Linked DNA regions of Homo sapiens: regions 1 and 2 are each linked to region 3. Evidence: fine-mapped expression QTL. A gene starts in region 3. Each other region holds a variant in brackets. All regions are shown on one strand. Distances are from middle to middle.

The links. PIP is the estimated chance that this variant, and not a neighbour inherited with it, causes the effect.
Region 1: its variant is fine-mapped to the expression of PBX4 in whole blood (TOPMed, PIP 0.95).
Region 2: its variant is fine-mapped to the expression of PBX4 in whole blood (TOPMed, PIP above 0.99).

What each region holds. Positions count from the first base shown.
Region 1 is chr19:19,584,856-19,587,616 of GRCh38, forward strand. All of the region lies in intron 2 of PBX4 (PBX homeobox 4), which reads right to left. It also overlaps the pseudogene PHF5AP1. Among named protein-coding and RNA genes, the nearest start is that of PBX4, 32 kb to the right of the region's middle. The variant C/T (reference allele first, on the strand shown) is at 1,414.
Region 2 is chr19:19,253,383-19,256,143 of GRCh38, forward strand. It overlaps HAPLN4 (hyaluronan and proteoglycan link protein 4), which reads right to left. Exons shown (of 5, transcript NM_023002.3): 5 at 1,374-2,761. Among named protein-coding and RNA genes, the nearest start is that of HAPLN4, 8.0 kb to the right of the region's middle. The variant G/A (reference allele first, on the strand shown) is at 1,426.
Region 3 is chr19:19,617,322-19,620,082 of GRCh38, forward strand. It overlaps PBX4 (PBX homeobox 4), which reads right to left and starts at 1,366. Exons shown (of 8, transcript NM_025245.3): 1 at 1,190-1,366. The coding sequence starts at 1,308. RefSeq lists a silencer at 1,148-1,357.

The sequences.
Region 1 (2,761 bases), 32 kb before region 3:
CCTCGTGATCACCCCCTTGGCCTCCCAAAGGGCTGGGATTACAGGCGCGAGCCACCTCCTGGCCCAAGGGCTGTTTTATCTTATGGTTTCCTGGGCATCATGGGCACTGAGTTTACTCCTTAACTCTAAACAAGGAGACTTCTGGAGCCCAGCCTGTTTGTATTAAGAACTGCCTGGCTTTACCTTTTAGGCCACATCCCACAGGTTAGTTCATTTAAGTAACATTCTAGGACAGGCGCTAGAACAGGCTTTGTTCTGTTCTCTGAGGCAGACCAGCCTGGCCAACATGGTGAAACCCCATCTCTATTAAAAATATAAAATTAGCTGGGCGTGGTAGTGCACACCTGTAATTCCAGCTACTTGGGGGGCTGAGGCAGGAGAATCTCTTGAACCCGGGAGGCAGAGGTTGAGGTGAGTCCAGATTGCGCCACTATACTCCAGCCTGGGTGACAGTGTGAGACTCCATCTCAAAAAAAAAAAGTAACATTCTAGATAAATCCTTATCTTAAGTCATGGAAGTTTCTCAGATCCACAGGACTTTAAAAAGAATAACCCTTAAAAAACACTCATCAGTTTCTGAAATAGTGGCTGCCACACACTAGATATTCACCCAACTGAGGGATTATCACACTAGGCAAATCTCCGTCATCTCTAATTAAAATACATCACAACCAGTCACAACTGAAGTGTGTCAGGCCTCTGAGCCCAAGCTAAGCCATCATATCCCTTGTGACCTGCACGTATACATCCAGATGGCCTGAAGCCACTGAAGATCCACAAAAGAAGTGAAAATAGCCTTAACTGATGACATTCCACCATTGTAATTTGTTTCTGCCCCACCCTAACTGATCAATGTACTTTGTAATCTCCCCCACCCTTAAGAAGGTTCTTTGTAATTCTTTCCACCCTTGAGAATGTACTTTGTGAGATCCACCCCCTGCCCAAAAAACACATTACTCCTAACTTCACCGCCTATCCCAAAACCTATAAGAACTAATGATAATCCCACCACCCTTTGCTGACTCTCTTTTTGGACTCAGCCCACCTGCACCCAGGTGAAATAAACAGCCATGTTGCTCACAGAAAGCCTGTTTGGTGGTCTCTTCACACGGACGCGTGAGAAATGAAGATGCTGGAACCACAATCAAATATGCAAATTAATTTCATTTCCATATGTTTACATGTTTGTTAATTAAAACACTGCAGTTCTGAAATAAACTAGTATGTGATTTTTAAAAAAATGCCTACTGTTCTGTACATTTAAAAAATAAATAGGCTGAGCATGTGGTGGCTTATGCCTGTAATCCTAGCACTTTGAGGGGCTGAGACGGGAGGATCACTTAAGCCCAGGAGTCCCAGACCAGCCTGGGCAACACAGCAAGACCCCCATCTATAAAAAGTACAAAAATTAGC[C/T]GGATATGGTGGCTTCTATCTGTAGTCTCAGCTACTTGAGAGGCTGAGGTGGGAGGATCACCTGAACCTGGGAAGTCAAGAATGCATTGAGCCATGATCATGCCACTGTACTCCAGCCTGTCTCTTTGAGACAGAGCAAGACCCTGTCTCAAAAAATAAACAAACAATTATATGAGCTGCTAATGCTGAGTAAAAATGATATGCGGTTTAGGCTTGTTTTTCTGTGCTACTGTCCTTGCATGTGGTAACAGGGCAAAAGGAAGACAGCAAAACACTGTAATATATAGTGCTGTAATATATATTTTTCCAGATGTGCCAGGCAGCACATCTGGAAAAACAAGCCCCTGTGAGGAGTTGCAAACATTTAAGAGCCACAGCTAAGAAAAACAGCACTTGGCCGGGCATGATGGCTCCTGCCTGTAATCCCAGCACTTTGGGAGGCCACGAAGTCAGGAGATCAGGATTATCATGGCTAACACGGTAAAACCCCATCTTTACTAAAAATACAAAAAATTAGCCAGGCGTGGTGGCATGCACCTGTAGTCCCAGCTACTCAGGAGGCTGAGGCAGGAGAATCGTTTGAACCCAGGAGGTGAAGGTTACAGTGAGCCGAGATCGCGCCACTGTACTCCAGCATGGGCGACAGAGTGAGATTCCGTCTCAAAAAAAGAAAAAGAAAAAGAAAAAGAAAAACAGCACTCACTGATGGCTTCTATCTACCATAAACAATTTTCTTTTTCTTTTTAATTTTTTTGAGACGCAGTCTCACTCTATTGCCCAGGCTGGAGTGCAGTGGCACAATCTTGGCTCACTGCAACCTCTGCCTCTCAGGTTCAAGTGATTCTCCTGCCTCACCCTCACAAGTAGCTGGGATTACAGGCACCCGCCACCCCACCCAGCTAATTTTTGTTTTTTTGTTTTGTTTTTGTTTTTTGACTACCAGAAAATAAACACGAACTTTATTAATAGCAATAGAAAGGGTTTCCAATTTCTCAGAATGAAAATAACATGACACCAGTACAAGTGTTAAAACAGTAGGCCGGGAGCAGTGGCTCACGCCTGTAATACCAGCACTTTGGAAGGCCAAGGCGGGCATATCACCTGAGGTCGGGAGTTTGAGACCAGCCTGGCCAACGTGGTGAAACCCCATCTCTACTAAAAATACAAAAATTAGCCGGGCGTGGTGGCGGACTCCTGTAATCCCAGCTACTTGGGCAGCTGAGGCAGGAGAACTGCTTGACCCCGGGAGGCAGAGGTTGTGGTGAGCCAAGATCGAGCCATTGCACTCCAGCCTGGGTGACAGAGCAAGACTCCGTCTCAAATTAAAAAAAAAAAAAAAAAAAAAGAG
Region 2 (2,761 bases), 360 kb before region 3:
GTCAAAGTTGGTGGTGGTGGTTGGAGATGTTCAACCTCACAAATAGAAACGCAAGCAACAACCACATTGAGATACCATTTTTCACCTATCAGATTGACAAAAATAAAAAGTGACAAGACATGAGGCTAATGAGGATGTGTGGAACAGGTGAGTACTTTTTTTTTTTTTTGAGAAGGGGTCTTGCTCTGTTGCCCAGGCTGGAGTGCAGTGGTGCAGTCTCACCTCACTGTAACCTCCGCCTCCTCAGTTCAAGTGATTCTCCTGCCTCAACCTCCCGAGTAGTTGGGATTACAGGTGCCTGCCACCATGCTGGGCTAATTTTTGTATTTTTGGTAGAGATGGGGTTTTGCCATGTTGGCCAGGCTAGTCTCGAACTCCTGACCTCAGGTGATCCACCCGCCTCGGCCTCCCAAACTGTTGGGATTACAGCCGTGAGCCACCATGCCCAGCCAGGTGAGTATATCTATTACCTGTGGAGTATAAATTGGCCCCATCTCTAAGAAAATGTGGAAATCACTATGAAAACGGCGAGTTTTAGTCTGGGCACAGTGGCTCATGCCTGTAATACTAGCACCGTAGGAGGCCAAGGCAGGTGGATCACCTGAGGTCAGGAGTTCGAGACCAACCTGGCCAACATGGTAAAACCCCATCTCTGCTAAAAACAGAAAAATTAGTTGGGCGCAGTGGCAGGCGCCTGTAATCCCAGCTACTTTAGAGGCTTAGGCAGAAGAATCGCTCGAACCCGGGAAGCAGAGGTTGAGGTGAGCCGAGACCGTGACATTGCACTCCAGCCTGGGCAATAGGAGCAAAACTCTGTCTCAAAAAAAAAAAAAAAAAAAAAAAATGGTAAATGGGGAGTTTTGACCCTTTGAACAAACAGCTTCTTTTTTTTTTTTTTTTTTTGAGACGGAGTCTCGCTCTGTCGCCCAGGCTGGAGTGCAGTGGCGCTATCTCAGCTCACTGCAAGCTCCGCATCCCAGGTTAGGCCATTCTCCTGCCTCAGCCTCCTGAGTAGCTGGGACTACAGGTGCCTGCCACCACGCCCAGCTAATTTTTTGTATTTTTAGTAGAGACGGGGTTTCACCATGTTAGCCAGGATGATCTCGATCTCCTGACCTCGTGATTCGCCCACCTCAGCCTTCCAAAGTGCTGGTATTACAGGTGTGAGCTGCCGTGCCCGGCCTGAACAAACAACTTCTGATATCATCCTCCAGTTATACTTGAACTTGTGAGTGATGATGTGGATACTTACTTCTAGCAGAAACATATTGAGAACAATATAAATGTCCACCATTAGGAACCTGACTACAAAATTATGATGCATTCAATCCAAACCATTGATCCTCTTCAGACTGTCAGAAGAATGAGGAAGAGGAGATTTACTTATTTTTATTTTTTGAGACAGGGTCTCACTCCGTCGCCCAA[G/A]CTGGAGTGCAGTGGTACAATCATGGCTCACTGCAGCCTCGACCTTCTGGCTCAAGCAATCCTCCCACCTTGGTCTCTTAAAGTGCTGGGATTATAGGCATGATCCACTGTGCACGGTCAGGACCTTACACTATTTTTTCTCTTCATGCTTTGTTGTATCCTAGAAACTTCCAGTGCTTCCTCAGCCCCTGCCCTCAGCCCACATATTCATGTCAGGGAAAGTTTGTAATGTCTCTCCCTTCCTGGTACAGGAACCCCCCTTCCAGTTTCCCGAATTTCATGCCCTGGATCTTGTCAATGACCCAGTCAGGACAGAGTTGACAAGGAGCAGACCCATGGTGGGTGGCTAAAGGGAGACAGTGGGCACAGGATGGGGGAAGAAAGAGGAGCAAGAGATTGGGGAGGTGGGGGAGGAATGAAGGACCCCACTTCCAAAGAGAATAAAAATCAAGCCCGGCCAGGCGCAGTGGCTCACACCTGTAACCCCAACACTTTGGGAGGCCGAGGTGGGTAGATCACCTGAGGTCAGGAGTTCAAGACCAGCCTGGCCAACATGGTGAAACCCTGTCTCTACTAAAAATACAAAAATTAGCCGGGTGTGGTGGCAGGCACCTGTAATCCCAGCTACTCGGGAGGCTGAGGCAGGAGAATCACTTGAACCCGGGAGGCAGAGGTTGCAGTGAGCCAAGATTGCACGACTGCACTCCAGCCTGGGCGACAGGGCAGGACTCCATCTCAAAAAAACAAAACAAAAAAAACCCCAAGCCCCCCAAGCTTGTAACATCTTATCTACCAAAGTGCATTTATACAGGAATTACCCACTGGCTGCCTCATTTTCTCATTCATCAAAAGAAACAAGGATTTATTGAGCCCCTACTGTATGCTTGGCACTCACGGGGACCACAGAACAGCCCTGGTACAGTGGGAGAACACAGGTTCAGAAGGAGTTTGTCACTTGGTCACACAGTGAGCAAGAAGAGGCAGAATTCAAACCCAAACCGACCTGGTCCCAAAACTCAGAGATAGGTTTCCTAGAGATGACGTGACAGTAAAGAGGGCCCCAGGGGGACCCCAGTACTCCTGCAGGCAAGACTTCGGGACTGGGGTCTCCCACGGCCGGGATGGCCTTGTCCATGGATCATGTCCCCCCAGCTGCCTGTCAACGCCGAGGACTTCGGCTGGGTCCTGACCTCTTAGCACAGATCGCCGCTTAGAGCCTGGTGGGTGTTGAATTTTAAAGAACATTCCATCCCTCCTGGATCTCTAAGGAGGGAAATGTGGGTGGGGGTCAGGGAAGGAGAGAGGAACTGGGTGAGAATGGAGATGGGGTCTCAGA
Region 3 (2,761 bases):
TTTTGTTTGAGACAGGGTCTAGCTCTGTCACCCAGGCTGGAGTGCAATGGCTTGATTCGGCTCACTGCAGCCTCAGCCTCCTAAGTAGCTGGGACTACAGGCTTGCATCATCACACCTAACTAATTTTTTAATTTTATTTTTAGTAGAGACGAGGTCTTACTACATTGTCCAGGTTGGTCTCGAACTCCTGAGCTCAAGCAATCCTCCTGCCTCAGCCTCCTAAAGTGCTGTGATTAGAGATGTGAGCCACTCCACCCAGTCCTTATTTTTTGCTATTTACATTCCCTCCCCTAAATCATGTACTCGAGAGCAGGGACTATGTCAGCACCCGGTTCCCTATCCAGTTATTGTAAGGATTCAATAAAAATTTGCTGAATTCATTAAAAAGAAAATAGGTCTTCCATCTCCACCCACTCCTCTACTAACCCTTTTCCCAAAAGTTCTCGATGGTTCCCACACCAAGTTACCCCAGTTCAGTTCTTCAGTCTCCTGCAGACATTCCTGAGTCCCATTCCCAGCCACTCACTCTCCATCATCTGCCCTGGAAACTTCCCACCCACAGGCCGGGCTCGGTGGCTCGCGCCTGTAATCCCAGCACTTAGGGAGGCCGAGACGGAATGAGTGCTTGAACCCAGGAGTTTAAGCAACTATAGCGAGACCCCTGTCTCTACAAAATATACAAAAAAATCAGCCGGGCGTGGTTGCACGTGCGCCTGTGGTCCCAGCTACTCGGGAGGCTGAGGCAGGAGAATCAACTGAGCCGGGGAGGTGGATGCTGCAGTGAGCCATGATCACGCCACTGCACTCCAGCCTGGGCGACAGAGCAAGACCGTGTCAAACAACAACAAAAAAACTTCCAGCCGCAGGAGTCCCATTAACGTACCCATTTAGTCATTCACTCGTCAAAAGTCCCGTACGTGCCCATTTCTCAGCCCTACTCCCTAAACCCCTAAACCCAACCTTCTCGCCCCAAGATGAGCTGCTGAAAATCCTTCACGCCACTGCTCGGCCCCATAAGGCCTATCCAGCCCGTTCCGTTTGAACCCCATACATCCCTTCGTCCTCGGGACCCCCCTCCAGCCCTCCTCAAGCGCCCCTCGTCAGTCTGGCCTCCACGCCCCGTCCCCTCAGCCCGCCAACCTCACTGCCACGACCCTGCGTGGCCCCTGCCGAGCCCGCGGGCAGCACCTGGCCTGTGCCTCGTCCAGGCTCTGGTCGGTGATGGCCATGATCTGCTGCAGGACGTCGCTCGTGTCGAGGCGCCGCGGGGCGGGGGGCGATGGCGCGGGGCGCGGCGGGGCGGCCATGAGCGGCAGGGCCGGGCGGGCGCTGTGAGGGTGCCGTCGAGCCTGGAGCACTACCACTGGCGCCGCAGCCAACCGCCGCTGCCTGAGCGCCGCGCCCGCTCTCGCTCGCGCCTAAGCCACGCCCACCGCCGCTATCGCCAGCCAACCCGTGTATTGCACCGCCTACAGACACGCCCCTTCATCTCCGTCAGCCAACCGGCGCCACGCACCGCCCCCGGGACTCGCCCCGAACTTCCCCCTCTCCGGGCTTGGACTGGGTTTGGGGTTGCCGAGGCAACGGCACTTCTCATAAGCGCCCTCCTTCCCCTTGAGAGAGGGCAGCGCTGGCTCCGCTCCAGCCAGAGGCCCCCATCCCTCACATCTCGCGCGGTGCACGCCTCCTTCAGCCCCACTCGCATCTCCTCAGAGTTCCTGCTCCTCCTCAGGGCCCCCTTCTCCTCAAAGCCCTCGGTCCTCAGAGACCCTCACTCCCCAGAGCACCCCAACTCTTCCTCCAAGCCACCCCCTCCTCCTCAGAACCCCACACCTCTTATAGCTTGATCGACAGCCCCCATTCATTTCCAGAAGCCCCAAGCCCCAGACCCCTGCTCAGTCCCCCTAATGCTCCCTGCATCCTCAGCCCCATCAGGTGGGCCACTGGGGCCCCTGGCTCTTCCTCTAGAGCTTTCCACGCCCCGTTCACCTGGCTAAGGCGGGGCGCAGGCGTGCGTGGTTGATGGCAACGAGGAGGTCAGAACGCAGCGCTTTTCTCCACTGCAGAAATCAATTCCAGTCACCTTTCAAGGTCCAGCTGAAGAGTGACCTCGCTTGTTTATTCATCTTCGCAGATTACAGTTCTGGGCATAGAAAATGCTACCACGTGGTTACCGAATGAAGGAAGGATGTTTACTGAGAGACTCCCCTGCAGTGTACCCCAAATCAGAGCGAATCCTCACATCTTTGTTTCTAGTCCTTAGGACACAGCATCGAAGGCTCCTAGTGCACAAGAAAAGGAACTGGGCGGTGGCTCATGCCTGTAATCCTAGCACTTTGGGCGGCAGAGGCGGGAGGATCACTTGAGCACGGGAGTTTGAGACCAGCTTGGGCAACATAGTGAGACCCCGTGGTGGTGCACGCCTGTGGTCCCAGCTATTTGGGACTTGAGAGGCTGAAGTGGGAGGATCACTTGGGCCTGGGAATTTGAGGCTGCAGTGAGCCATGATTGCACCACTGCACTGCAGCCTGGTTGACGGAGACCAGGTCTCAAAAAAAAAAAAAAAAAAAAAAAGTAATGGCCTGGACATGAATCTCTTCTCCAAAGTCACAGAACCTCCTGGAGCCTATTTGCTATGAGGACAGTCTCCAGATGTGGGCTCAGTAAAAGGTCCTCAGCCTGCTGGCTGGGAGCCCTTCCAGGGTGGGGCCCACGTTCTCTCCATTGCTGCTGGGGAGGAAATTCAAACACCATCTGGTA